7 linked regions of the Homo sapiens genome follow. The protein of the gene in region 1 purifies or fractionates together with the protein of each later gene. This does not show direct contact. Each region holds a gene or a part of one and is shown in the gene's direction. Other genes may lie near its edges. The genes, in order: GOT1, STEAP4, GDA, PLG, ZNF185, NECAP2 and GAN.

Region 1 (4,080 bases):
TGTAAAGGATTTTATTTCTCCTTCACTTATGAAGCTTAGTTTGGCTGGATATGAAATTCTGGGTTGAAAATTCTTTTCTTTAAGAATGTTGAATATTGGCCCCCACTCTCTTCTGGCTTGTAGAGTTTCTGCTGAGAGATCAGCTGTTAGTGTGACGGGCTTCCCTTTGTGGGTAACCCGACCTTTCTTTCTGGCTGCCTTTAACATTTTTTCCTTCATTTCAACTTTGGTGAATCTGACAATTATGTGTCTTGGAGTTGCTGTTTTTGAGGAGTATCTTCATGGCATTCTCTGTATTTCCTGAATTTGAATGTTGGCCTGCCTTGCTAGGTTGGGGAACTTCTCCTGGATAATATCCTGCAGAGTGTTTTCCAACTTGGTTCCATTCTCCCCGTCACTTTCAGGTACACCAATCAGATGTAGATTTGGTCTTTTCACATAGTCGCATATTTCTTGGAGGCTTTGTTCGTTTCTTTTTATTCTTTTTTCTCTAAACTTCTCTTCTCACTTCATTTCATTCATTTGATCTTCCATCACTGATACCCTTTCTTCCAGTTGATCGAATCGGCTACTGAAGCTTGTGCATTCGTCATGTAGTTCTCGTGCCATGGTTTTCAGCTCCATCAGGTCCTTTAAGTACTTCTCTGCATTGGTTATTCTAGTTAGCCATTCGTCTAATCTTTTTTCAAGGTTTTTAACTTCTTTGCGATGGGTTCGAACTTCCTCCTTTAGCTCAGAGAAGTTTGATCTTCTGAAGCCTTCTTCTCTCAACTCGTCAAAGTCATTCTCCATCCAGCTTTGTTCCGTTGCTGGTGAGGAGCTGCATTCCTTTGTAGGAGGAGAGGCACTCTGATTTTTAGAATTTTCAGTTTTTCTGCTCTGTTTTTTCCCCATCTTTGTGGTTTTATCTACCTTTGGTCTCTGATGATGTACAGATGGGTTTTTGGTGTGGATGTCCTTTCTGTTTGTTAGTTATCCTTTTAACAGTCAGGACCCTCAGCTGCAGATCTGTTGGAGTTTGCTGGCGGTCCACTCCAGACCTTGTTTGCCTGGGTATCAGCAGCGGAGGCTGCAGAACGGGGAATATTGGTGAACAGCAAATGTTGCTGCCTGATCGTTCCTCTGGAAGTTTCGTCTCAGAGGGGTACCCGGCCATGTGAGGTATCAGTCTGCCCCTACTGGGGGGTGCCTCCCAGTTAGGCTACTCAGGGGTCAGGGACCCACTTGAGGAGGCAGGCTGTCCGTTCTTAGATCTGAAACTCCGTGCTGAGAGAACCACTACTCTCTTCAAAGCTGTCAGACAGGGACATTTAAGTCTGCAGAGGTTTCTGCTGCCTTTTGTTCGAGCTCTGAGCCTTTCTTCTGCTTGGAAGGCCTCACCATTCCCAGGCTGCTGTCTTAGTTCACTAATAGCCTCTTAATTTACCTTCCTGCCTCTAGTCTCTTCCCTGTTTTAGTACATTCTGCATGCTGCAGCTAGGATGACCTTCCTTGGCAAAACAAGCTACTCATGTCACCTGTTCCCACTCCCCACCCCCACCGCCCATAGCTCCCCCATTGCCTGTAGGGTAAAATCCAGACTTTGAGCTTGGCATGCAGTGAAAGTAGGTGACAGGTGACAGTCTTCATCCTGTTCTTACAGTTGCTGATTTCCCCTCACTCCACTAGAGGTCCTGACATTCTAAGAGTCTTGCTGTTCTCTAGACCTACTGGGCCCTGTCAAGACTAAGAACCTTTGCCTGGCCCTTCTCTCCATTTGGAATGCCCTCCCTTATTGCTCTAGCTGTCCAGTCCCCACCTCTAAGTCCTTCAAGAGCTGATCAAGGGTCACTTCCACACTGAATCCTTAGGTATTTTAGGCAGAGCTTGTTGTTTAAGCTCTCTGAGTTATCACAGGACTTTGTTCACAGCTTGGGAATAACAGTACTTAACTGTTCTTACTATAATGGATAATTTTATAAGTCTTCATCTCCCACAAGGCCCTAACTTTCCCCAGGAGAGTGATCATTGCTTATTTACCTTGCAGATTTTCAGCATTTGGCTCCTATCCGGGTACCTCAGGTTCCAAAGGTTTGGATTCATTCATTCCTTTAGTCATCAGATGCCCACTACTAGAGCCAGGCACTGTTCTAGATGCTGGAGCACAGCAGTGACTCAAACACACAGAATCCCCTGCCCTTGCATTCAGTTTCGGGGAGAGGAACAGACTCTAAATGTAATCTTTTTGACTATATCAGTAAGAAAATGATGTAGTATACTAAAGATGATAAATGCTATAAAAATGGAGCAGGAGGTGGCATGTTAGGAATTCTAGGAGTGGATACAGTTTTAACTAGGGTGGTTATGATAGAAATAGAAATGACATTTGAGCCAAAACTTAAAGACGAGACATAAATGAAAGAATGAGTGAACAAGTAAACCAACAGTAATTGTTTCTTCCCTTAGATTTTTCTTCTCCAGATTCAACATTTCCAGATCCTTTACCCATTTTGAGGAGACCTATTTTCTAGACTCCTCACTGCCTTGTATTACTTTTCCACTTTCAGATCTTAGGATCCAGACAGAAATGTCGATTTTTCATCTCTGGCATAGTGCTGTTTCAGCTTTGAGATTACTGAGCATTGTAGGAAGGAGGGCTCATGGGTCATAACTCATTGTCACATCATGACATCCCACTCTCGCTTTGATTGCCTCTAGGCGACTTGGGGCTTCTGCTGTGGCTCAGATCTTTTCACCACTGTCTTCTTTCTTCATCTAGTTCAGCACATGCTTATGTAGTACCATGTGCCAGATGCCGTGAGAGATGCTGGGGGCACCCAGATGAATGCAGCATGGCTCTGGCCACAGGCAGCTCCTGGTTGCTCTCCTATTCCTCATGGTGAAGTCATAGTATCGGCAAATTGTTATCTCAGACAAGGGTTCTAGAATCCAGCAATCTTATGCTGACATGTCCAACAGAGGCCTGCTCTATCTAGCTTCATACCAAGTCTTCCTGGATTTCCCTTGTTCTGGATACTCTTGTTTACCCAGGTCCAGTTGCCTGGCTCCTTGAGAAGTCTGTACTTACTTCCTTTGATGTTATGATTTTCCTTTATAACAAGTACAGGACATTCTTAGGCTGTAGGACAATTTGCCAAAAATCAGTTCACAGAATGACCACATTGCTATATTATTGATTCACCAAAAACTTGTTTCTGTTAGTTGCTGATGTTTAGAGCAACTTGTGTTTCACTGAAGCCATCCAGTATTTAATAGATTTTTAGGGAGTGATAACTTCTTGAGAATTTGATATTTCAAGTGTCATATATGTCATGAATGTCAAGGATTAGTTAATGTGGAGTGGGTTTATCTCTTCTAAGCACATTTTTAATGTATTCTACTGATTTTTAAAAAAATGAATTTGCTTTCTGTAGTGGGAGAGAAAGGGTGGAGTGAAAAGTTGAGAACAGGAAATGAAAAATTATGCCTGGGAATGTTTCCACTGGTATCTATGCATCTATCGTGTTTCCAGAAGTTAAAACCATGTTCAAGGGAGGTCTTGCTCATTTGCTTAGGAAGTATTAGCACTCTAGAGTGGCTTAGGTATCTGCAATGTGAAGTCATGTATGAAACTGACATTCAACTTAGCTGGATGACAAATCCATAAAAAATAAATGCACATTTGTGTTATATCATCTTGGTAGCAATTTGCATAAAGAATTCAGGTAAACCACAATGTGGGGGCAAAACTTTTAAAGTAATAGCAAGGGATGAGTGCTCAGTAAGGATCACTGTAAATAACAGAGTAGTTAGCACACCAAATCTGACACACACTGAGCATTTTCACCCCAGTGCACTGCCTTTGCCCCTCTCTGTAATGTACAGCTATGTTTAGTTCTGCATCCCCTTGAATGTCAACTTTGCTTATGTTTCACATTTCAGATAGTATTCTTTCACAGATGCTCACACCTATAAATACAAACAGAACATTGGTGCATAATAGTGCCGATAATTGGTAACATTACCTTGTTGTTGGCTTAAATGGGATTTCTACTAAACGATTCACTGTTTTTAAGCTGACTTATGGGTTAAATGAATTTT
Region 2 (4,080 bases), on another chromosome or scaffold:
GCCTTTCAAAATAATTATTAAATAAGGAAAAGGAGTAAATACAGAATTAATTAACTGTTTTTAAACTAGGTGTTTGTGTGTGGAAATGACAGCAAAGCCAAGCAAAGAGTGATGGATATTGTTCGTAATCTTGGACTTACTCCAATGGATCAAGGATCACTCATGGCAGCCAAAGAAATTGAAAAGTACCCCCTGCAGCTATTTCCAATGTGGAGGTTCCCCTTCTATTTGTCTGCTGTGCTGTGTGTCTTCTTGTTTTTCTATTGTGTTATAAGAGACGTAATCTACCCTTATGTTTATGAAAAGAAAGATAATACATTTCGTATGGCTATTTCCATTCCAAATCGTATCTTTCCAATAACAGCACTTACACTGCTTGCTTTGGTTTACCTCCCTGGTGTTATTGCTGCCATTCTACAACTGTACCGAGGCACAAAATACCGTCGATTCCCAGACTGGCTTGACCACTGGATGCTTTGCCGAAAGCAGCTTGGCTTGGTAGCTCTGGGATTTGCCTTCCTTCATGTCCTCTACACACTTGTGATTCCTATTCGATATTATGTACGATGGAGATTGGGAAACTTAACCGTTACCCAGGTAAATCTCTTCTTATATATTTTCTTCTGCTCCTGAAATCAGAGACTATTGCTACATCATATTCCATTTCATAATTATAGAAAGTCACTCTTCTAAGCATCTTCTTTTTTAAAGTAACTAGAATTAGAAATGTCATGTCAGTTTTTTAAAATGAATCCAGTTTAGATCTCATACAACTATTAAGAATAAAAGTTTGCCGGGGGCGGTGGCTCACTCCCATAATCCCAGCACTTTGGGATTCCGAGGCAGGTGAATCATGTGGTCAAGAGATCAAGACCATCCTGGCCAACATGGTGAAACCCCATCTCTACTAAAAATACAAAAATTAGCTGGGCATGGTGGCGGGTACCTCTAATCCCAGCTACCCAGGAGGCTGAGGCAGGAGAATCGCTTGAACCCAGGAGGCAGAGGTTGCAGTGAGCCGAGATCGTGCCACTGCACTCCAGCCTGGGTGACAGAGCAAGACTCCATCTCAAAAAGAAAAAAAAAAAAAGAAAGAAAAAAAATGATACTTTCCAGGTTCGCTTGGGTCCAGATCTGTATTCCCAGGGCTCATAGAGATATTGGCAAACTGACAGATTTCATGGCTCAAGAAACCTAAAGACACCTACTTGAATTCCTTTGGTTGGCAGTCAAATGTTAACTAGTGTGTTTTCAAGCTTCTATTCTTAGGCATGTTACTTCCTTTTGGAAGTCAAAACCAACCATCTTTTAAGTAAGAGGGCTAACCAAATATGTGCCACACTAAAGCAAACAAATTCACAAAAGAGCGCTTATAATTCCCTTAATGTTTGACTTGGGGGAAGTTGACCTCAATAACTAGAAAACCAAATAATTCTGAGCAAATATCAAATATTGTCTTATGCATAATCAAAAGATTCAGTGAGAATCAGCTGAAGGAGTTTTAAGACATTCTCAGAGGAAGTGCTATAAGTCAGTTCTAGTTTAGAAATAGCTAGTTTTGATAGATCTTACTTCAGTCTCAAAAATTATTAGTTAGTCATTAATGATGCTTCTATGGGTTTCTCTACATTATTTTCCCAACAAATACATGTAAGTTTCCTGGGTAAGAGTCACACTACAAGTGTCTGATTCCTCTCAACTTGTGGTGCAAGACTGATGTATTATATTATGATGTATTTATTATCATGTATAATAAACATGAAAGAACCCACTTTGAGAGTGTGAGTAATCCACATATAAAGCAGAAAAACAGAATTCTGATGTAATTGTTTGAGAACATCAAGTTTTGCTTGGGGAACAAAATGCAGATGGTAATGAAGGTTTAAGTGAGTGTTTACTGTCTTTTAGAATTTACAGGGAAAATCGAAACTTTCTACACAACTCCTAGAATCAAGTCCAAACAGAACCAATTACTTTTTTTGCCAAAAAATATAATTTCTAAGTGTATTTTTCACTAAAGTTATTTTAAAATAATTTTTAAGAAATGCCATACAATTTGCTTTGAGCAAATAATTTGTGCCCACTGTCAAAGTGTGGGCAGTTTGTAAAATGTAGTTTGTAAAAATGTAGTTTTGTAATTGCTTATAATTTTTCTTAGGCAATACTCAAGAAGGAGAATCCATTTAGCACCTCCTCAGCCTGGCTCAGTGATTCATATGTGGCTTTGGGAATACTTGGGTTTTTTCTGTTTGTACTCTTGGGAATCACTTCTTTGCCATCTGTTAGCAATGCAGTCAACTGGAGAGAGTTCCGATTTGTCCAGGTAAGAACTTCAAGTTCATTCCTAACTTTTCATTTTGCTCCATCACTTCCCTAGCAATCATATTTAAAAATTCAAATTAGAAAATGTTGAACCCAGGTACAAAAGGCAGAATCCATAATGATTTGATTTCTTAATACTCGCCAAGATTCCTGACTGCCTCCATATCTACAGCTAAGACTATAGGGTGAAAAATACTAAGAACTATTACAATTTATGTGTGGAGATGTACTAGGTACAAGGCAAAAAGAAACCCCAAGACAAAATTTCACCATCTAAAAAATTAACCTTACAACATGGACATACAGATATGGAAAACCAGATGTTGAGATAAAGTTTAAAATCTTCACAGCAAGATTTGATAGATGTCATCACACCGGAAGACTTAATGCTCTTCTGTAAGAGGGAAAATTGTTTTCTTCCACATGTCAAGCACCAACCAACCCCTCTTTAAAGGCAGTTAGTAACTACACATTCTTGTAGACCAGTGGTCCTCAAAATATGGCACCAGGACCAGCAGCATCTGCATCACCTGGAAACTTGTTAGATACACAAAGCCCCAGGCCATGCCCAGGCCTACTGAATCAGAAACTCTGAACCTGTGGCCCAGAAATTTAATGAGCCTTCAAGATGATTCTGATGCATGCTTATTATGAGTATAATAGAAAAGAGCATTAGTCTTTAAAATTAGGTTAGAATTTTATAGAACTATTGGAATCTTAAGTCTTGCAATTTCTCCCAGGGACCAAATGCAGTCAACATGTTCTCATTAGCAGTTTTGTTCAAGGTATTAAGGCAGAAATAAACAATAAGCTTTAAAATGTAGGCTGAAACAAGATTGGCTATTGCTCTTTATTGTGATAGAAATGAGCTAGGATCTGGTTTTAGTCAGTAACATATACTAAGATGGTGCTTCTTGAGGTCATACTGTGTCATATTCATCTCTGACCTCTAGAAAAGATGATAAATAAAAGAGTTTCACCTTTGGGAACCAAGACAAGCTACATTATTTATTCTAACTTGGAAGAGTTTACTCCTGGGAAACTTTTCCATCCAGCTAGGTTAAGGTGAAGCTACTATGTCATTTGTAAGAAATAATCTTGTTTTAAATGAAGTATTTACCATCCTGAAGAAGGGTTAGTGCTTTTTTTCAGTACTTGGCAAAGTGTCCTAAACATTATAGGTCTCAAATGTTTGTGGTTGTTGACAAATATCTGTCACTGGCTTAGAGTGTTTCACTTTAAGATGTAAATAATGTTAACTTACATATTTTTGTTTCTTGTTTATAGTCCAAACTGGGTTATTTGACCCTGATCTTGTGTACAGCCCACACCCTGGTGTACGGTGGGAAGAGATTCCTCAGCCCTTCAAATCTCAGATGGTATCTTCCTGCAGCCTACGTGTTAGGGCTTATCATTCCTTGCACTGTGCTGGTGATCAAGTTTGTCCTAATCATGCCATGTGTAGACAACACCCTTACAAGGATCCGCCAGGGCTGGGAAAGGAACTCAAAACACTAGAAAAAGCATTGAATGGAAAATCAATATTTAAAACAAAGTTCAATTTAGCTGGATTTCTGAACTATGGTTTTGAATGTTTAAAGAAGAATGATGGGTACAGTTAGGAAAGTTTTTTTCTTACACCGTGACTGAGGGAAACATTGCTTGTCTTTGAGAAATTGACTGACATACTGGAAGAGAACACCATTTTATCTCAGGTTAGTGAAGAATCAGTGCAGGTCCCTGACTCTTATTTTCCCA
Region 3 (4,080 bases), on another chromosome or scaffold:
GTGGTCCAGTGGTAATAAGCTAGAGAGAACTTAGCAAGGCCTGCTTGTTCAGATTCTTCTCTGTGATCCTTTAGCTTCAGAGATCAGGTATAGGGAGGGCACCCCTTACGTGATGGTCTTATGACCTGCATTGGGGTAAGGGGTAAGGGGAGGGTCAGAGTGACCTTCCTGTGTTTGATTTGAGGGTAGCGTGTCCTGACCCCCTCATTATTTTCATATTGCTTATTCTTTTACTCTCTGATTAGAGTAAATTTCTAAGAATAGGGCTCTAGGGAATAGTCCTAGTGATTTTTCTTATATCAGGGGTGTCCAAGGGAGTTCTTAGTTTCTGTTTCAGGTTGTGCCAGTAAAGCCCCCTCCCTCATCCCTCTTTTCTGCTTATCAGTAGAGACAGAAACTAAAAACCATGGCTTCAGGCTGCTAAAAGCCTAAAACAAAACATAACAAAACAGAACAACAACAACAAAATAAGGCAGGTTGGATGAGCTTGTCTTACATCATACCCGTCTTGAAATATTTGAATTATTTTACTAAATTAATTTCTTTAATTTATATAATACCTTTTCTCTGATGACTCAAAATTCACATACCCAGAACTTTCACACAATAGGTAAACTTCTGTTAATTGCCAGTGGGTTATTTTTTGTTCTGGGAGGTTTTTATAAAGCACATAGCCACTTCTTTTTTAATTAATAGAAGTAGATTTTGCCATTGAGAAACAAATTCGTATTTCTGGGCTTTGTCAACCACTATCAGCTGTGAATTTACTTTTCTAAATGCACAAATGAGTCTTTCTTATTACTTTTATTTTCCATTTTAGGCTGTTATCCAGAAGTTCCTCTATCTAGGTAGGTAGATGCATGTCTCTATGCTAAATATTAAATAGAACCTTTCCCTGTCTTTTTCTTGGGTATGGCTCTATGTATTTATCCTACCATATATTAAACTCTGTGGATGATAATTTGCTTTGATTCATTATTTTTTTAACAGTCTGAAGCATCAAGCCCATTGGTGGCACATTATTTAAAGGTTCTATTTGAAATGCACATGACTCCCTCTAGTCATAAATTCTAAGCTGAGGAATGGAAGGCCAAAGGTGAAGAGATCTTCATGTTCAACCCTCTTGTACTCATTCGGTATCTGACATACTGCCCTGCCATGTTTTTGTGACAAATGTATAGTAGAGTCTCACCACACGTGCTGGTGATGTACTCACATTCAATTCCATTCACTGAGAGAGAGAGAAACAGTAATGCAGAATATTCTACACTGCCTCCCATTCTGTTCAGTGAGCCCAGGACTGAGTGAACTCAAGATGGAAAGATGCATGTGTTACTTCTTGTGGAGCTGATTCTGGAGCGTAAAGAGTAGTATTTCTTTCTCAGTGGGGGCAAAATGTAAACCAACCACTTCAGCTGAGAAAGGACAGCTATAGGGGGTTGATTCAACTTTATGTGATTTCTGCCTCTGGTGCAGAATTCAGACCCTAATCATCAAATTAGCTATGGCATTTTCTACTAGTCATATCTTCCTGTTCAGATTATAAACAATCTGAGGGTTGGGGGAAAGCAGCTTTTAGTATTTCCTCTCCTAGAAGTATCTTTAAAAAAAATCTCTCCCAATGGCAAGGAAGATACTTATTGACACAAAAGGATTTTATACATGATTCCTTGATTTTTCTTTCAGGAGATGATCGAAATATTGAAGAGGTTTATGTGGGCGGAAAGCAGGTGGTTCCGTTTTCCAGCTCAGTGTAAGACCCTCGGGCGTCTACAAAGTTCTCCTGGGATTAGCGTGGTTCTGCATCTCCCTTGTGCCCAGGTGGAGTTAGAAAGTCAAAAAATAGTACCTTGTTCTTGGGATGACTATCCCTTTCTGTGTCTAGTTACAGTATTCACTTGACAAATAGTTCGAAGGAAGTTGCACTAATTCTCAACTCTGGTTGAGAGGGTTCATAAATTTCATGAAAATATCTCCCTTTGGAGCTGCTCAGACTTACTTTAAGCTCAAACAGAAGGGAATGCTATTACTGGTGGTGTTCCTACGGTAAGACTTAAGCAAAGCCTTTTTCATATTTGAAAATGTGGAAAGAAAAGATGTTCCTAAAAGGTTAGATATTTTGAGCTAATAATTGCAAAAATTAGAAGACTGAAAATGGACCCATGAGAGTATATTTTTATGAGGGAGCAAAAGTTAGACTGAGAACAAACGTTAGAAAATCACTTCAGATTGTGTTTGAAAATTATATACTGAGCATACTAATTTAAAAAGAGAACTTGTTGAAATTTAAAACGTGTTTCTAGGTTGACCTTGTGTTTTAGAAATTTGCACTTAATGGAATTTGCATTTCAGAGATGTGTTAGTGTTGTGCTTTGCCTTCTTTGGCGATGAATGTCAGAAATTGAATGCCACATGCTTTCATAATATAGTTTTGTGCTTCAAAGTGTTTGACAGAAGTTGGGTATTAAAGATTTAAAGTCTCTTAGGAATATTATTCATGTAACTCCATGGCATAAATAGTTGTATTTTTGTGTACTTTAAAATCAACTTATAACTGTGAGATGTTATTGCTTCCATTTTATTAGAAGAGAAACAAATTCCATGCTTTATGGAATTTATGTAGACTGGAGTCTTCGTGAACTGGGGCAAATGCTGGCATCCAGGAGCCGCCAATACTAACAGGACAGGTTCCATTGCCATGGCCTATTCCACCCAAACAATATGTTGTAGTTTCTGGAAATTCCATACTCAGATATCAGTCTGCTAGAACTTTAAAATGAAGGACAAATCCTGTTAAAGAAATATTGTTAAAAATCTTTAAACCCTGTGTATTGAAAGCACTCTATTTTCTAATTTTATCCAGTTTTCTGTTTAACTCCTTATAATGTTTAGGATATTAAAATTTTAGGATAATGAAGAGTACATAATGTCCTACTTAATATTTATGTTAATAGGACTTAATTCTTACTAGACATCTAGGAACATTACAAAGCAAAGACTATTTTTATGCTTCCATAACCTAGAATTAAAACCAAATTATGACCTTATGATAAATCTTTAAGTATTGGTGTGAATGTTATTTAAATTCTATATTTTTCTTATTTAATTACAAATACTATAAATGAGCAAGGAAAAGGAATAGACTTTCTTAATATATTATAACACTCATTCCTAGAGCTTAGGGGTGACTCTTTAATATTACCTTATAGTAGAAACTTTATGTAATATAGCTAACTCCGTATTTACAGAACAAAAAAACACAGTTCCCCCTCCTGTAGTATAAATTTTATTTTCACATACTTAGCTAATTTAGCAGTAATTGGCCCAGTTTTTTCCCTAATAGAAATACTTTTAGATTTGATTATGTATACATGACACCTAAAGAGGGAACAAAAGTTAGTTTTATTTTTTTAATAAACAACAGAGTTTGTTTTGTGAGATAAGTATCTTAGTAAACCCAATTTCCAGTCTTAGTCTGTATTTCCAATATTTCTAATTCCTGAGCCACGTCAAAGATGCCTTGCCAAATTTCTCCCCATTTCTCTACGGGGCTAGCAAAAATCTTCAGCTTTATCACTCAACCCCTGCCAAAGGAACTTGATTACATGGTGTCTAACCAAATGAGCAGGCTTAGGAATTTAGATGAGATGTGTAAGATTCACTTACAGGCAGTAGCTGCTTCTAGCATTTGCAAGATCCTACACTTTTACCTTCTTTAAGGGTGTACATTTTGATGTTGAACATCAGTTTTCATGTAGACTTAGGACTCATGTGCAGTAAATATAAATAAGTGTAGCATCAGAAGCAGTAGGAATGGCCGTATACAACCATCCTGTTAAACATTTAAATTTAGCTCTGATAGTGTGTTAAGACCTGAATATCTTTCCTAGTAAAAATAGGATGTGTTGAAATATTTATATGTACTTTGATCTCTCCACATCACTTATAACTTATGTGTTTTATTTCTCCAAGTGCGGTGTTCCTGAATGTTATGTATGCTTTTTTTTCTGTACCACAGGCATTATCTATACCTGGGGCCAGATTTTCTGCACTTTGAAATGTTGCCTTTGCCTAATGTAG
Region 4 (4,080 bases), on another chromosome or scaffold:
GCTCGCTGTCTTCAGAGCCAGGCTTGTCTCCTGCTGCAGCCTCCACTGCTCTCCTAGTCACTCTGTAACCCACCCCCTCTGCCTGCGGCCCCCACCACGCCCCTCAAAGTGGTCAAGGTTGTCCTGTTGTCTAATTCCATGGAGCTTGCCTGTCTTCATTTTATTAGCCTCTTTTGGCCTCTCACCCTTGTGCAAATCACTAGCATTCTGTGCCAAGGACGGAGCTGGCATCTCCAGGCTTGGAATAGAGCTACCAAAGCTCAGCCAGATGTCTGGAAGAGCCTCAGGACAAGGGGACACCCTGTAGCCTTGTGGTGGGAGCACAGCTGAGGCCCCCTTGGCCACCCTCTGCCACGACCAGGCAGAAAGCAGCTTTCGGACAGATTCGTTGTCTCAGATTTGATCTCAAAGAAAAACCAAGACCAGTATTTGTCCCAGGTCCTGCTTTTTTACAATTTCCTCCGAAATCCAGATACCTGTCAACACCTTGGAAAAACTGACTTCTCCCCAATTAGTAGTGTTGTGTGACTGTCATAAGCCCAGTACAAAAATGGCCTTCTTTGTTGGGGAGCTTCTTACCCTCCAGTGTTTTGCCCAATTTTTGTCCAAGGTGGCAACATAATTTAGTTCAGTTCTTGTTTATTTCCACCATCATCTATGCACCAAAATTTATGTTTCTCAAGGAGGGACCATTCAGAGGATGCTTCCCACCGGTTCAAGTGACAGTGCCAGAACCAAAGCGCATATTGTAGGAAATCAAACAATGGCCTCCAAGTTCCATTTCTACCCAGGGATGAACAAATCAACATCAATCTTGGTAACACAACTGCCACTGATGGTGCCTTACTCTTCTCTCATGACATGGCACAATCAATAGCAAACATAAAATTTGTTCTTGTTTAAGGATTTATATCCACTAATATGGTAACATAGTAGTGGTTCCATAGTTCTAACCTGTTTGTCAATCCAGTTAATCTTTTACTATCTTGCAATCTGCTAATGAAACTGTTTTTCTTTGTTTTATAATTTCAACTTTTAGAGTCAGGGGTACATGTGCAGGTGTGTTACATAACTAAATTGCGTGACACTGAGCTTTGGGGTACAAATGATCCCATCACCCAGGTAGTGAGCTAAATACCTACTAAATAGGTAGTTTTTCAGCCCTTGCCTTGCTCCCTCTCTCCCTTCTCTGGTAGTCCCCAGTGTCTTTAGTTGCCATCTTTATTTATGTCCAAATGCCCGACTGTGTGTTCTTAACTAAACATTTTGATTCATAGCTACCCATTCTACTTCCAGTAAACAGAAAGTTTTATTTGGTTAATGCTAACCAAATAGATTAAAAGGAAGTCATGACAATTAGACATTGACATTGATTTACTGACCATTTATTCCACTTGGATCTCCCACCTCTAGGTCAAGGAGAGCCTCTGGATGACTATGTGAATACCCAGGGGGCTTCACTGTTCAGTGTCACTAAGAAGCAGCTGGGAGCAGGAAGTATAGAAGAATGTGCAGCAAAATGTGAGGAGGACGAAGAATTCACCTGCAGGTATTTCCATTGTCGTTGCACCTACGCAGGAATCTGTAATTCAGATGGCAAGTAATTTACTCACAAATTTATTAATGATTTAAGAGGAAAGAGAAATTTATGGAGCCAGAGTTTGGAACTATATTTGCTCACAGTATGTGAAGCCATACTAACAGCTTCTTGTTAAGGTTTATTGGAGTCTTTGTTAGAAAAATACCCTCAAAGGAAGTTATTTGTTTTTACACCGGACACAAACATTAGCAGTTATTGTTCTGAGCTCCAGTTTTCAACATCATCATCAGTAAATGTTTGTTGAGGATCAGGTGAATGAAAGTGTCCTAGATAGATCTGAGCAATGACTTATAGCTACAAGATCCAGTGCCTGCCCTTTAGTATTTAAGGTGTAGTCAAAGAAACTGGATATAATGTTAAAAAAAAAAAAAAGACAGCCCAAGTGAGGTACAGGCATAATCAATGCATGCTCTACCCAGATCCAGAAGAAAGAACAGTGCCTAAGGTTGAGGCAGCTAGAGAAGGCTCAGGGAGGAGGTGGGAACTGAGCTGGGTTTGGAGTTGAGAGAGCTCTTGACAAGCACCAGGAAGGCAGGGGAAGATGCGGCCCTGCACCTTCTGAGGGGGACCATTAAGAGATGAAGTTGACTAAAGCAGAGACTTTGTGTAGGTGACGGGCTTGGGAAGGTAGCTATGGAATCCAGACTGAGCACCCATAGCAGGACCACGGGATGGAGATGGGAGGGGTCAGGGGCCAGGGTGGGGTGGAATGTGGAGCAGAGGTTCAGGGGAACTGATCAGAGTTGGGAGGTCATGGAGACGGACTATCTTGGCGAATGGGTTCAAAGCAACCAGAGTTGCTTCTTTCCAACCCAAAAACAAAAATTAAGAAGATGAGTGAAGAAGAAGTAAAGCAGTTGAAACAGGAAGAAAGGGAAAATTATGAGGGAGGGAAGGTAAGGGCAGATAAGATTTGCTGCCACGTTGGTGTATTTTGTTCAGTACTTCATCGATGCCATGCCCAAATAACTGAAAGAGGCAGCAATTCTGAGCTCTCTGGTCCCTCAAGATATTCAATGATCTTTAGCATGTCTCACTTATTAATAAACATTTGTTTTCTTTAAATAAAGAAAAATACTTATTGGATTTCCTGCTTCGTTCTGCAGGGCATTCCAATATCACAGTAAAGAGCAACAATGTGTGATAATGGCTGAAAACAGGAAGTCCTCCATAATCATTAGGATGAGAGATGTAGTTTTATTTGAAAAGAAAGGTGAGTACATTTTCTTCCTCCTCCTCCTACTGTCCTCCCCATCCTCCCACTCTTCCTCTTTCTCTATTCTATCTTTAATTTATAAGACCAGAGGAGGAAGGCACTATCGTGTTATAAAACTGAATTCTGAGTTAGGACAGGATTTGATTACTAACTAACCATGTCAGCTTGAGTGTATTACTTCACCTCTTAGATTTAATTTTTTTTGTTCAAAAGATGAAAGGATTAGATTTACAAAATCACTTCTACCTCTATGACCCTGAAAATAAGATTTTTAAAATATTATTTTATATTTAACAAGGAGATGGGAAGTCTAAGCATTCCTTTTGGTCTTGGCTTCTTATTCTGCAGGGTGACCATGGTCCTTGGGCCCTAACATCTGGATGAAGCCTTGTAAAACAGAAATACTGAGGTGTTTTAATCCTCAGAAACATTTAGATTGGGACACAAATCTTATTTTTACTCTTAAATTTTTCACATTTTGGGGGACATGGTCTATATTTTTCTCAGATTTCTGAAATGTTGTCTTTTAAAAATGTGTAAAAGTTACAGTTCCTTTTCTATAGTTTATTTTAAAATGTGGGTCAATAGTCCCACTGCTTAGAATAAGAGGCAGACAGGATTTCAATAGAAATTGCATGCCTTTTTAGATGTGCAAATGTTTCATTAAGCATTTCCCATCAAGTATATCCCATCAAGTATGCTCCCATTAAGCATATCCCATCAAGTATAAATATTTGAAGGGATGCATGACACTTTAAAAACTGTTTCCTCTACTGTGTTGGTAGCCAGGTATTAAGACTGTTAATAGTAACAATTTAGCTCTCCAAACATTCTGCATCCCAGGTGTTAAAGAGGACTGGAAACACCTTAGTTCTTGTATTCTTGAGGATGATTTGCCATATTGTGTCTAGTATTACGGCAAAACTCTAAGTAGCATTTTAAATAGTATTTATTTGGGTTGGAATTATTTCTATGCATTGACTCATCTTCCTGGGTTTCATTAGCTGTACGCATTGTACTTCCTTCCTTACCACTATTTATCTCGAATTCTTGAGATTAAAGTGCAGATTAAATCTAAACTTTATCTGGTGAAGTTATTAGTTCTTACAAGTAGCAAGCAAACGGTAAACTAAATAGGATCACCTAATTGTACCAGATTTTAAAAAAAAAAAACCCTGATTCTCCTGATTCTCTCTACAAAATGCTAACATTTAAATATGTCATTTGTAAATTGTTAACCAGAAGGAACATGGGAATGACTGTA
Region 5 (3,755 bases), on another chromosome or scaffold:
ATGAATCGGAGGGTCGCACCATGTAAGGCAAGGAGGCGGGGAGGGACCGCAGCAACGTGGGGGCGCGCAATCCGTGGGGGACCGACCATACCTGGGGATGCGAAGGGGCTTCCACCATTCAGAGCTCCGCCAGGCCATGTGGAGGGCAGAGCGTGGGAAAGGCTATCCAGCAATGTCACAGGGTGGGAGAGCCCCTGGGTGCCTGGGAAGGAGAATGTGTGGCAGAAATGGCAGGACTTGCTGGGCAGCCTCTAGGATGGAGGCCACAGGATGGCAGGTGACAGGGAGTCTCGGAGCCAATCCTTCAGGATGCCTCTTTCCCCCAGAGAGCTGCCCTCAGGCCGGAGTCGCGCCACATCCTTTTCATCAGCTGGGGAGGTTCCGAAGCCTAGGTAAGAGGTGGTGCTCAGGTGGCTGGTGGGTCAGCCCCAGGGACTCTCCTGCAGCTTGGGGCCAGCCCTCAACAGGGAGGGGTGGGCAGTCCACAGGGGACAGGGATGCAGCCCCAGCCAAGGGTCTGCAATGAGTAATTTGAAATCTGCAGGAAGGAGGGGCTTCTCCACTGCACCTTCCTTTTGGGAAGGGGAGTGTAGGAGTCACTTGGTCCAGGCCCTTGGCCTGGCTGTGTGGCTGTGGGGCAGCTGACTTCCCTGCTGGGCCTCCGTGGCTCCAGCTGTTAACTGGGATTGAAATTGTCTTTAAGAAGAAGACGACCTCCCACCCATTCCCTGCAGGGAGTGATACTGCCTCTGAGATGCTTTGGGCAGCTTCCAGAGTCACAGTGACTCACTCCTGCAGGTCACCCTGACTGCTTGAGTGTACTTGGGACTCAGCATGCCTGTAGAGAGGCACGAGTTTGCTCTGACTGTCTCCCAAGTTTACCGTGACATATTTTGTCAGCTGACCAAGGAGAACTGGCTTCTCTCTCTTTTGGGGGCTTTTCCATAACAGTGTCTAGGGGGGCTCTGAAGCGTGGGCACACCCTGCTGGCCTCTGGAGGAACTGCTCCTGACAGAGAAAGGGAACTGAAATTCAGGCTCGCTCCTTGCTCCAAACAGCCGGCAGGCGGCTTCTCAGGGGGTGGTAGAGGCAGTGGCGGCCTCTGGAAGGGAGGGCCTCAAGTTTACAGCCAGCACACAGGGCTACCTTTAGTAACTACGGTCTCTCTGTCACCCCTCGATGACTCAGCGCCCACTACCTGCCAGGTCCCATGCTGGGCACAGAGGATGCAGGAGTGGTCAAGACAAAGGCCCTGTCTTTGGGCAACTGACGTCCCAGCAGGGGACTCAGGCAGGACCCTAGTAAACAGTTCAATACAAAAGCGAGAACCCCCAAGTGTGCCTGCAACATGGCCACCTCTGGGAGGCTGTCCCCTGTTAGAGATGGAGATTGTGGGGTTGGAGACTACCGGAGGCTCTGTGTTGCCCTTGACCCAAACCCCGATGCTCCAGCCCACATCCCCTCCACTGCAGGACAGAAGGGTCTACCCTGACCCCTTGACTCCTCCCCTAACTCTGAGGAGGACTCTTTGCAGGGGCCCCTAACTCCTGCCCGGAGGCCAGAACTTCCAGGCTGACCACCCCTGGCTGTCAGCTCCCTGCCCGCTCGTCTTGGCTGCCCCCTGAGTTATCTGAGCCCCCTCAGTTGCTGCCAAGCAGGAGGTCCCAAGCACCCAGAGCCTAATGTTTCCCAGCCGCTGAACAAGGCCTGGCCGCGCCCTCTCGTCTCAAACTTCCACCAAGACTTGGGGTGTGGGCATGCAAGGAGCTGGAGCAAAGAGGGCCCCGAGGGACAGGAAGGGGGACAGCTGGCTTCGGCTGGCTGCTGCCTGGGCTCTCCCCTTCAAGCCCTCATGCACCTTCCTGGTGGAGGCTGTTGAGGGAGATCAGGTCAGACCCCGGGCTGAGGGGAAGCCTCTGGCTCTGACTGGGGAGCCTCCAGCTTGCACTGGTTCAGCCCCAAGCACAGAGGATGGGAGGGCTGTCAGCTGAGAGCAGTGCTCCGTCGGCGCAGCACTGGGAACTGGCTGGCCAAGGAGAAGCTGGACTTTGGAGAGGCCATCAAGCTGCCTTCCTAGGCACCTGCCATGAGGAGTCACCTGGGGCACTTTTCCTGGGGGAGCATGAGGGAAATAGGCAGAGCATAGCGGGCACCTGATCAGGGGCACAGGGGGCTGGCACCCCTCGTTTCTGCTGTACTGGGACACCTGGAGCACTTGCCAGCCAATCTTATTTGCTATCGTTAAGGGCAGGATAAAGTAGGATGACCTCAGCCCTCCAGCAAGCCTCGCTTCACTCCACCCCTTCTTCTCTTCGGCAGGCCTCCGAGCACAAGGGCTCCCACTGGCTACATCATCCGGTAAGTGACCGCAGGACTCTGCCGGCCTTCCTGTGCCCACTCACGCCAAGCCCTGACTTCTTACCCCTCCAGTCCCTCCAGGGAGCTCACCGGCATCTCCTGGGCTCTCTTTCAGGGGAGTGTTCACCAAGCCCATAGACAGCTCTTCCCAGCCCCAGCAGCAGTTCCCCAAGGCCAACGGGACTCCAAAAAGGTATGTCCATGGGGTGTTGGCCAGTCGGCCAGTGGGGAGGTGTGAGGGCCTGGTCTGGGCTCCTGGCAGAGACAGTGCTCTGCCTATCAGGACTGTGGGGCCTTGGAGGTGCCAGCTTTCATCCTGGGTAGGGCAGGACCCTGGAGAGCAGGGTGGGGTGACCAGAGGAGATGGGCTGGGGTGGGACTGGCAGTCCCAAGTGGATGTGTGGGTCTCTGGGAGGTCCTGGGCCACTAACAGTGTCCTTGTCCTGGGGTCAGTCCTGACTAGGCCTGGCTAATGGGACAGAGAGGTGCAGGAGTTTGGGAGGGGCTGGGTGTAGAGTCCCCCTAGCCTGGCAGTGGGCACCCTTGACTTGACTTGCTGATGGCATTGAGAAGGCTGAAGTTGCATGCAATTCAAGCACCTTGGCATCAGGCATTGCCTGGGACTCCGTCAGACTGGAAAGGCCAAGGGGACCCGGAAACAGGAAGCAAAGACACAGGCAAGAGCCCGCTGGGCTGTTCCCTGAAGCTCGGTGGGGTTTGCCTACACAGCTGCTCTGAGTGGCGCAGTTCCGGGTGTCTGTCAGGGCCAAAAGCAAAGAGGAAAGGCTCCCAGGCAGCTCCTGGTCCACCTCTCATGTGTCCACTGGGCTGTGTGGCCAAATCTGGAGGCAGGAGGGAGCCTGCAGGTAGACACATGGAACCTTCTCCTCTCTAGTGCTGCCAGTCTGGTGAGAACAGCTAACGCTGGTCCTCCCCGCCCCTCCTCCTCTGGCTACAAGATGACCACTGAGGATTACAAGAAGCTGTGAGTATGCAACGCCAGGCTCAGCGTGGTTCCCTCCTCCAAGGAACAAGTCCAAACTCTGGGTCCACTGAAGGCAGCTGACTACTTGCCACCGAGCACAGCCCGGGAAGTCCCGCCTGCCTGACACTCCCTGCCAGTTGCAGCTGTGGCCTGGAGCCCACCAGAGGGTAACAAGCCCCAGAAAACTGGATGGCTGTGCACATTGCACGTCTGATCCGAGGCAGAGCGGAGACCGCAGGAAGCTTGTAGGAGGGGCCCCACGGATCTGGGGAAAGGGTCATGGGTCGTGAGGCTGCTGCTGGCTGGCTGTGCTTCCTGGGCTTGGCCCTGCACCCGGCCGAGCCTCAGGTGCTCTGCCTGGCTGCACTGGGCTGGGGGCCTGGGGATCCTCAGGGTGCTGCTGTCAGTCTGA
Region 6 (4,080 bases), on another chromosome or scaffold:
GACAGAGGGAGACTCCATCTCAGGAAAAAAAAAAAAAAAAGGTATAAATCAAATTCCTGGGCTCAAGCAACGCACCCCACTTCAGCCTCCCAAAGTGCTGGGACCATACCCACTCCATGACCCTGTTTCTAAAAAACAAAACAAAAAATACTAAAAGCAACAACAGACGTCAGCACATGGGAAAAACTGATGCCAGTCATAAATGCTTGTGGAAATTTTATGTTGTGCCGCACTGTCGAGTGCTGTAGTTGACAAGGTGATGTGTTTCACAAGGGCTTTTAAAGCTAGTCACGCTTGCCCTGTCTCAGATTGAATTAAATCAGCCTGCTTCAGATTCCCTATGGGTATGAAAACTTCCTCCCTTCTTTCCTCGGGGCTCACTGGCCCCTCTTATAGTCCTGCCTCAGGTACTAGCCTCTTCAGCAGGTGTGATTACCTAGGCCAGGGTTCACCTGTTCTAGGACACTCAGGGTTCAGGTAATATAAGTGGGTAAAGCAGATGGAATGGATGGGCTAGCAGCTCCAACTTATTCTCAGGTGGGCTTGGAGGCTCAGCATTAATAAAGCTTAATTTTAAGAGAGGCCAGGCAGAATACCAAACTGTGAGCTAAATTTGACCTGTAAGCTCTCTGACTTAAGCCTTTCCTTGATTATATTTTCTGTGTCTTCCCTTTAGCAAGAATGGATTCGATTTGAATCCCACAGTAAGGTTTGCCGATCTGTCTCAGCTGGTTAGAGATGCCTTGCGGGCAAAAGGCCCAGTAGTGTGGTAGAAAACCTTGGCTGGAAGGGGGCTCAGGGCTCAGCGCTCAGCCTAACCTGTGCTTTCAGGGGAGCTCTTTGCTCAGGCCCCGGTGGATCAGTTTCCTGGCACAGCTGTGGAGAGTGTGACGGATTCCAGCAGGTACTTCGTGATCCGCATCGAAGATGGAAATGGTAGGCATGGGTCCTGGTGCTTCCTCCTCTTGGGAAAGGTTTTCTCTGCCTTTGGAAGGTGGGTTGATCATGTGTTGTTCCCCAGGGCGACGGGCGTTTATTGGAATTGGCTTCGGGGACCGAGGTGATGCCTTTGACTTCAATGTTGCATTGCAGGACCATTTCAAGTGAGTGGGTCTGGGAGACACACGCTCATGCCCCTCCCTTCTTTCCCTGGACAGAATGATCTCCCAGGTTAGGATACCCAAGTGTTTGTGTGTGATTTGTCTGGCAGCAGAGACTCAGGAGAACCCAGGACAAGCCACCTCTCTTCTCTGCCAATGTTCATCTCTGCTGTAAAGCCTTCTCTTTTACCTGAGGCTCATCTCTACCATCCCAGCCTTCGGGCCTGCCACCTGTCTCCCCTTACCAGTCCCCTGAGCAGCCAGAGTCCTCATCAGGCTCCTGTGGCCTTTCTGGGCCTGCTCCTCCATGTAATCAATGGCGCTTGGATTCCCAGGGCACCCAGCAGATGCCCTGATGTCCTTTTCTGAAGCTAAGAGACAGGGCAGGAAGTCCTCCTCCACCATCTGCAGGGCTCGAACTCAGGCTGCCAGTGAGTGGGCTGTGCCCGGCCACTCACATGGGCGCCTCTGGCTCTTCCCTTACCGGTGCTGCTGGGTGGTGTGGTATGGAGGGTGGGGGACTTTTGTGTTGCCCTCTACTTTTGGGTATCTGTCTTGTCCCCCCGTCTGCCTTCTGAGTGTTTGAGGGTGTGTAGAGACCGCATCTTAGTTCTCATGTCATATACTGTAGAGGGAAGGGCAGGCTCTCACGTGTCCTAGAGATAGTGTTAGGACCCTCTACGTAAGTGATCTCGCTGCATTCGTAGCCATCTTGAAAACCTATAGAATTGTGGGCATATTTTGCTGATGAGGAAACCAATGTGCATGCCGCTACTTAAGTGTCAGATTGGGATTTGAATTCAGGCCTCACTCCCAAGCCTGCACTCTTTCCAGCACCCCGTCTCACTACGAGGCTCAGCCTGGACTGATAGCAGGCAGTAGTGAAGTGAGCCAGTGATTGCAGGGCAGCTGGTCTCTTCCTTCCTCACCTTTTTCCTCATGTTCTCTCCCCAGGTGGGTGAAACAGCAGTGTGAATTTGCAAAACAAGCCCAGAACCCAGACCAAGGCCCTAAACTGGACCTGGGCTTCAAGGAGGGCCAGACCATCAAGCTCAACATCGCAGTGAGTTCTACCCTTGCTTGGCTGTGGTGACGTGATACTTGTGGCCACCCAGCCCCAGAGCCCATTGCTCTTCTTACAGTTCAGCTCCTTCAGTTCAGCAGATGTTTAGTGAGCATCTGCCTTGTGCCAGGTCCTGCATCGGGGTGAACAAGAGACCTCTGTTCTCATGGAGCTCAGAGTTGAGCTGAGACAGGCAGGTAAAAATGTGATAACAACATGGCAGGAAAGGTTCCATGACTAAGGGATGCCCTGGGTGCCGTGGGCTCCTAGAGGAAGGGTGTGCAGCCCATAGTTGTGGGAACCAAGGAAGGCTTCCTGGAAGAAGGGACCTGTAGGCAAGGGAAGAGTGATCAAAGAGTGGTTCACACAGAGGAACAGCAGGTGCAAAGCCTCTGAACTGAGAAGGAGCATCAGTCATTTGCTGCCAGAGGTGGTGTTTCTGTCCTAGCTATTAGAGTGCATCAGGAGGGACCTGTGTGCTCATCCCAGGCTGTGTCTTGAATAAGGAAGATTTGGGAGAGTTCTGGCAGGAGGGCGTTGAGGTGGGCGCTGGGAGTCCTGGGCAGCTTGTGCTGATGGTGTTGTCCTGGCTCCTGTGTCTTCGTTCTGAGCTGCTCTGCCTCTGGCTTCCCTCCCGTCAGCTCCTGTTCATAGGAACAGGTTGGGCTGGGCTGGGCTGGGCTGGGTTGCCTAAAGTTGGCCTTTACCTGGCTGCAAGGGTGGAGAGGGGAGATGAGGTCAGAGTCATGATTGCGGGGACCCAAGGACCAAGTGGATTGGTTTTTGTTTTTGCTAGGAATACTGTGTTGAGATGGATTTGTTTTTTCAAGAAGCTTTGTAACTCTAAAATAATGCTTTTCCTCTTTACTTACTCTTTCTCCTCTTTTCTGCTTCGTGCTGGTGATGATTTGGGATCCTTGAAGTTGGCCAGCTGGCCCTTAAGAGAGAAATGCAAGTCCAATCCAGTGGACTGGTTGGGATGTGATTCTTTCTCTCGCTTGGAGGAAACTAACATTTAATGAGCATCAGCTGAGGGCCAGGTAGTGGTTTTTTTTTGTTTTGTTTTGTTTTTTGTTTTGTTTTGTTGTTTTTTTTTTTTAGGCATTTCTCATGTGAATTAAACATCCTCTCCCTTTCCTCCATGAGATGAGGAAATGGAGGCTTAGGGAGGGTTGGGGACTTGCCCAGGGTCACAGAGCTAGAAATAACTGGCACAGCTGTGCTCACACTGAGGTCTTTGAGGTCTTTTGACTTCAGGGCTGGACTTACGATTTTATTAAGCTGCTGCTTTCCTTACAAGTAGGGAACACATTATCTTCATCTGTGTAACTTGTGCTGCTTTCTGGCTCATGCTTGGTGCTCAGTTTTTTTTTTAAAGCATTTTCTTGAAGTATAATGTGCATGTAAAAAAGTGTACAAATCATAAATGCAGAACTCTGTGAAATTTAAAAAATCTAATCTATAGGCTGGGAGTGGTGGCTCACGCCTGTAATCCCAGCACTTTGGGAGGCTGAGGTGGGCGGATCACCTGAGGTCGGGAGTCCGAGACCAGCCTGACCAACATGGACAAACCCTGTCTCTACTAAAAATACAAAATTAGCCGGGCATGGTGGTCCATGGCTGTAATCCCAGCTACTCCGGGGGCTGAGGCAGGAGAATTGGCTTGAACCTGGGAGGTGGAGGTTGCAGTGAGCTGAGATCGAGCCATTCATTGCACTCCAGCCTGGACAACAAGAGCGAAACTCTGGCTCAAAAAACAAAACAAAACAAAACACCCAATTTATAAACTTGCACCTTGCTCAAGATGCAAAAGATTGTCAGCACTCTGGAAACACCTCTCCTGGCCCCTCCCAGTAACTGCCCTGAGTAACCCCATCCTGACTTCACATACCCTAGATTTTGTTTGTTCTTAACTTT
Region 7 (4,080 bases), on another chromosome or scaffold:
ACTCACAGTTTTATTTTACATTTATAAAATACTTTCGTCAGTTCAAATTTAGTGATTGAGCAGTAAAAGTGTAAATTCATATTAGTCGTCTTAGATATTTTTGAACAGTAATTACTGCAAAAATGATTATATAGTACTCAGGTTTTTTTTTAAACTTTGGCTTTTGTATATTTTTCTTGTATTATTAATGTTGATGTCTAAGTTTACCATATTGTATTGAGCTATTACTGTATATAATATTTGTATAAACATGATTTAACTCATGGCACATCCAAATGTGTGAAATAAAGCAAATTATAGCTGGTTCTTTTCCTGTCTTTTCCTATTGAAATGGGAATCCTTTAAGGTGTAAAGGAAGCTGCTTGAAACTTTTACAGTGATACCTCAAATAAACTGATGATTTTTAAAAATTAAACTTTTACTTATCAAGACTCTGGGAAGTAGACAGTTAGGGCCAGGAGAAGATATTCAAGCAGCACGAGTGTGTCTCACTTGCCTGGTAATAACCTGAGTGTTAACAGTTTGTTTTCCATGAGGTGGAAAATGTAGATTCTAAAAATGATGTGTTGCATTTTCCATTGTTTTCGCCCCATCTTTCTTCCCTCTTCTGCAGGTCCACATGAAGGATGTTATGTCAGCTCTGTGGGTTTCAGGGTTGGACTCCAGTTATTTACGGGAACAGATGCTGAATGAACCATTAGTACGAGAAATTGTCAAAGAGTGTAGCAATATACCGCTCAGCCAGCCGCAGCAAGGGGAGGCGATGCTGGCCAACTTCAAACCCCGGGGCTACTCTGAGTGCATCGTGACTGTTGGTGGAGAAGAGAGAGTGTAAGTATGAGGTGGGACTTGTTTGAAAAGTGGTGTATGGGAAGAGGTAGTTCCATGTAAACAAGAATTCATAATGCTTTTCAGTATCTAAAACATAATTACATTTGATTTTTTTTTTTATACTTTAAGTTTTAGGGTACATGTGCACAATGTGCAGGTTAGTTACATATGTATACATGTGCCATGCTGGTGTGCTGCACCCATTAACTCATCATTTAGCATTAGATATATTTCCTAAAGCTATCCCTCCCCTCTCCCTCCACCCCGCAACAGTCCCCAGAGTGTGATGTTCCCCTTCCTGTGTCCATGTGTTCTCATTGTTCAGTTCCCACCTATGAGTGAGAATATGCGGTGTTTGGTTTTTTGTTCTTGCGATAGTTTACTGAGAATGATGATTTCCAATTTCATCCATGTCCCTACAAAGGACATGAACTCATCCTTTTTTATGGCTGCATAGTATTCCATGGTGTATATGTGCTACATTTTCTTAATCCAGTCTATCAATGTTGGACATTTGGGTTGGTTCCAAGTCTTTGCTATTGTGAATAGTGCCGCAATAAACATACGTGTGCATGTGTCTTTATAGCAGCATGATTTATAGTCCTTTGGGTATATACCCAGTAATGGGATGGCTGGGTCAAATGGCATTCCTAGTTCTAGATCCCTGAGGAATCGTCACACTGACTTCCACAAGGGTTTTTAAAAAATGTTTTAAATATTCTTTAGTAAACTAAAACTAGTGATGGCTACTTATAAAAAGAACTGTATGAAGCACATTAACTACTGATCACTTATTTACTTCCTTAGTTCACGGAAACCCACAGCAGCGATGCGATGCATGTGCCCTCTCTATGACCCTAACAGGCAGCTTTGGATCGAACTGGCCCCTTTAAGCATGCCGAGAATTAACCATGGAGTTCTCTCAGCAGGTACCGTTCTGTGGCAAATTTTCCTTAAACAGCAGATCAAGTAATGTGTAATCTCAAGGTTTTACAGAATGACTCAGAGCCTTTTAAAGATACAATTTTATTATCTCTACATGACATTTTTAGTGTAGTTCTAGCTTCTGAGACCGTGGTTAGGAAAACCGTATTTTCTGTCAGTCCTTATTATCTCTGTATCTTCAGCACATAGCTGCTTTTAAGAACTACTGGAGAAGCAGTTACTTGATGACTTAATGTCAGGAGAGCAAACTTCAGTGATGCTTACCACTAAGTAGCTGTAGGGCCACACCTGGAACACAGCGTTTCTTTGCACCATGGTAGTCCCATCTTTGAAATTCATGCAGCTTAGAATTACAATATGTAATTATATAAAATATGTTATATAAGGCCGAGTGTGGTGGCTCACACCTGTAATCCCCGCAGTTTAGGAGGCTAAAGTGAGAGGAGCCTAGGAGTTCAAGACCAGCCTGGACAATGTAGGAGAGAAACTGTCTTTACTAAAAATCAAAAAAATTAGCCAGGCATAGTGGCATGCACTTGTGGTCCCAGCTACTTGGGAGGCTGAGGTGGGAGAATCTCTTGAGCCCAGGAGATCGAGACTGCTGTGAGCCAAGATCACACCACTGCATTCCAGCCTGGGTGACAGAGTGAGACCCTGTCTCAAAAAAAAAAGAAAAAAAAAGAGAAGTTATGAGACTTTAGGAAATGCTACTTATATAGGCAATGGCTTAAAGTTATTTAGTATGGAAAATGCTTTACTTGACCTTTACAAGTTTGAAAACTGCTCTACTTTATCCAAAGCTCTCCCTTAAGGAGCTGATAGAAAAGATAGCCATTGAGGCATTGCCTTTGCTGGCTGCCTGTCTTTTCGCCGTGGTCCTGCTCCCTTGTCCACCTGATAAGTGTCATCTCATGTCATCCTAATTGTGGTCAGCAGCCCTCCTGCAGTCCTTATTTAATTGTGTTTGCTTGCCCAGCAACATTATCTTTAAAATTTTATTTTTTATTTTATTTTTCTTTTTAGAGATGGGATCTTGCAATGTTGCCCAGGCTATAATATTTTTAAAGCTATACTGTACCACAGTGCATCATACAAATGGCCAAGGCTCTACCATAGTATAGAAGTGGAGTCATTTTATGAGTCCCAAAATTATTAGTTATTGTCAGTAGTGAAGAGCTGGACAGAGTAGTATAGCCTGCAGGATGTAGGTCTAGTTTCCCTGTTGCATCTTCTCAGAATTAGCTCCCTTACATTTCCCCCAAAATATATACACATATTCCTAATTTTCACACATACACGTCTGTCACAAAGGCTCCTATATGACTAATATTTGAAAGTTTGCTAGAGGGATTGGTGTTTCAGAAACCCAGCAATGGAAGGAGCGACTGTGTACAGTGGAATTGATGGAAACAGAAGTGAGTGATTGAGGAGGTCCTTCCGTTTGTCCAGGCTGCATTGTTTTTTTTTTTTTTTTTGCCTTTTTAAAAATTGATTTTGACTGTTTTTTTGTCATTCAATTTTTCTTCTCTACCAGTTTGGGACTTACATTCTTGTTAATAGTCCTTTAGGAAGATTACCTTAGAAATTACAGCCTGTATTAAGTTAGCAAAGTCCAAAGTTAGTCAGTACCTGTGTTCTCTTCAGGAGAGTTTTTCTTCATTTTCCATTTTCCATACTCTTACAGTTTTAAAATGCATTATCACTAATAAATATGTACAGTAGATCCCCCTTATCAATGAGGGATGCATTCCAAGACCCCCGAGTGGTTGTCTGAGACCACAGATAGTGCTGAACCCTGTACATACTGTGTGTTTTTACTATACATCCATACCCATGATAAAGTTTAAGTTCAGCACAGTAAAAGATTAACGACAATAACTGATAATAAAACGACGATAACAATATACTGTAATAGTTATGTGAATGTGGTCTCTCTCAAAATATCTTACTTTACTGAACTCACCTATTTTCGGACTGCAGTTGACCATGGGTGATAAAACCACAGAAACCAAAACTTCAGATAAGGGGTAGCTACTATATACACAATATGTCTTTTTTTGATATATGTTGGATGGATGGATGGATGGATGGATGGATGGATGGATGGATGGATGGATGGATAGATGGATGGACAGACAGATAGGTAGATAGATGATTGATAGACAGGCAGGTAGGTAGGTAGATAGTGTTCATTTAGATTTGCCACTTTCTTCGTTCTTCCTTCTTAACTCCTCAGACTTTCCACCTAGGATCATCTCCCTTCTCTCTGAAGTTCATCCTTTTGAATTTCCTTTAATATGGGTC

What was found.
Region 2: the proteins of GOT1 (region 1) and STEAP4 purify together in Homo sapiens (affinity purification with mass spectrometry; one large-scale study listed by BioGRID and IntAct). This does not show direct contact.
Region 3: the proteins of GOT1 (region 1) and GDA purify together in Homo sapiens (affinity purification with mass spectrometry; one large-scale study listed by BioGRID and IntAct). This does not show direct contact.
Region 4: the proteins of GOT1 (region 1) and PLG purify together in Homo sapiens (affinity purification with mass spectrometry; one large-scale study listed by BioGRID and IntAct). This does not show direct contact.
Region 5: the proteins of GOT1 (region 1) and ZNF185 purify together in Homo sapiens (affinity purification with mass spectrometry; one large-scale study listed by BioGRID and IntAct). This does not show direct contact.
Region 6: the proteins of GOT1 (region 1) and NECAP2 purify together in Homo sapiens (affinity purification with mass spectrometry; one large-scale study listed by BioGRID and IntAct). This does not show direct contact.
Region 7: the proteins of GOT1 (region 1) and GAN purify together in Homo sapiens (affinity purification with mass spectrometry; one large-scale study listed by BioGRID and IntAct). This does not show direct contact.

Annotation. Positions count from the first base shown.
Region 1 is NC_000010.11:99,409,797-99,413,876, reverse strand, and holds part of GOT1 (aspartate aminotransferase, cytoplasmic), read left to right. Parts: intron 1-4,080. UniProt on the Homo sapiens protein: Biosynthesis of L-glutamate from L-aspartate or L-cysteine. Important regulator of levels of glutamate, the major excitatory neurotransmitter of the vertebrate central nervous system. Acts as a scavenger of glutamate in brain neuroprotection.
Region 2 is NC_000007.14:88,279,158-88,283,237, reverse strand, and holds part of STEAP4 (metalloreductase STEAP4), read left to right. Parts: intron 1-69; coding exon 70-597; intron 598-2,158; coding exon 2,159-2,323; intron 2,324-3,609; coding exon 3,610-3,840; 3' UTR 3,841-4,080.
Region 3 is NC_000009.12:72,246,586-72,250,665, forward strand, and holds part of GDA (guanine deaminase), read left to right. Parts: intron 1-820; coding exon 821-848; intron 849-1,686; coding exon 1,687-1,757; 3' UTR 1,758-4,080. UniProt on the Homo sapiens protein: Catalyzes the hydrolytic deamination of guanine, producing xanthine and ammonia.
Region 4 is NC_000006.12:160,704,994-160,709,073, forward strand, and holds part of PLG (plasminogen isoform 1 precursor), read left to right. Parts: intron 1-1,413; coding exon 1,414-1,549; intron 1,550-2,706; coding exon 2,707-2,813; intron 2,814-4,080. UniProt on the Homo sapiens protein: Plasmin dissolves the fibrin of blood clots and acts as a proteolytic factor in a variety of other processes including embryonic development, tissue remodeling, tumor invasion, and inflammation. In ovulation, weakens the walls of the Graafian follicle.
Region 5 is NC_000023.11:152,914,812-152,918,566, forward strand, and holds part of ZNF185 (zinc finger protein 185), read left to right. Parts: coding exon 1-22; intron 23-326; coding exon 327-392; intron 393-2,319; coding exon 2,320-2,358; intron 2,359-2,473; coding exon 2,474-2,551; intron 2,552-3,031; exon of another isoform or gene 3,032-3,253; coding exon 3,254-3,343; intron 3,344-3,755. UniProt on the Homo sapiens protein: May be involved in the regulation of cellular proliferation and/or differentiation.
Region 6 is NC_000001.11:16,447,039-16,451,118, forward strand, and holds part of NECAP2 (adaptin ear-binding coat-associated protein 2), read left to right. Parts: intron 1-831; coding exon 832-936; intron 937-1,021; coding exon 1,022-1,103; intron 1,104-2,054; coding exon 2,055-2,163; intron 2,164-3,086; coding exon of another isoform or gene 3,087-3,182; exon of another isoform or gene 3,183-3,203; intron 3,204-4,080. UniProt on the Homo sapiens protein: Involved in endocytosis.
Region 7 is NC_000016.10:81,356,172-81,360,251, forward strand, and holds part of GAN (gigaxonin), read left to right. Parts: intron 1-613; coding exon 614-831; intron 832-1,638; coding exon 1,639-1,760; intron 1,761-4,080. UniProt on the Homo sapiens protein: Probable cytoskeletal component that directly or indirectly plays an important role in neurofilament architecture.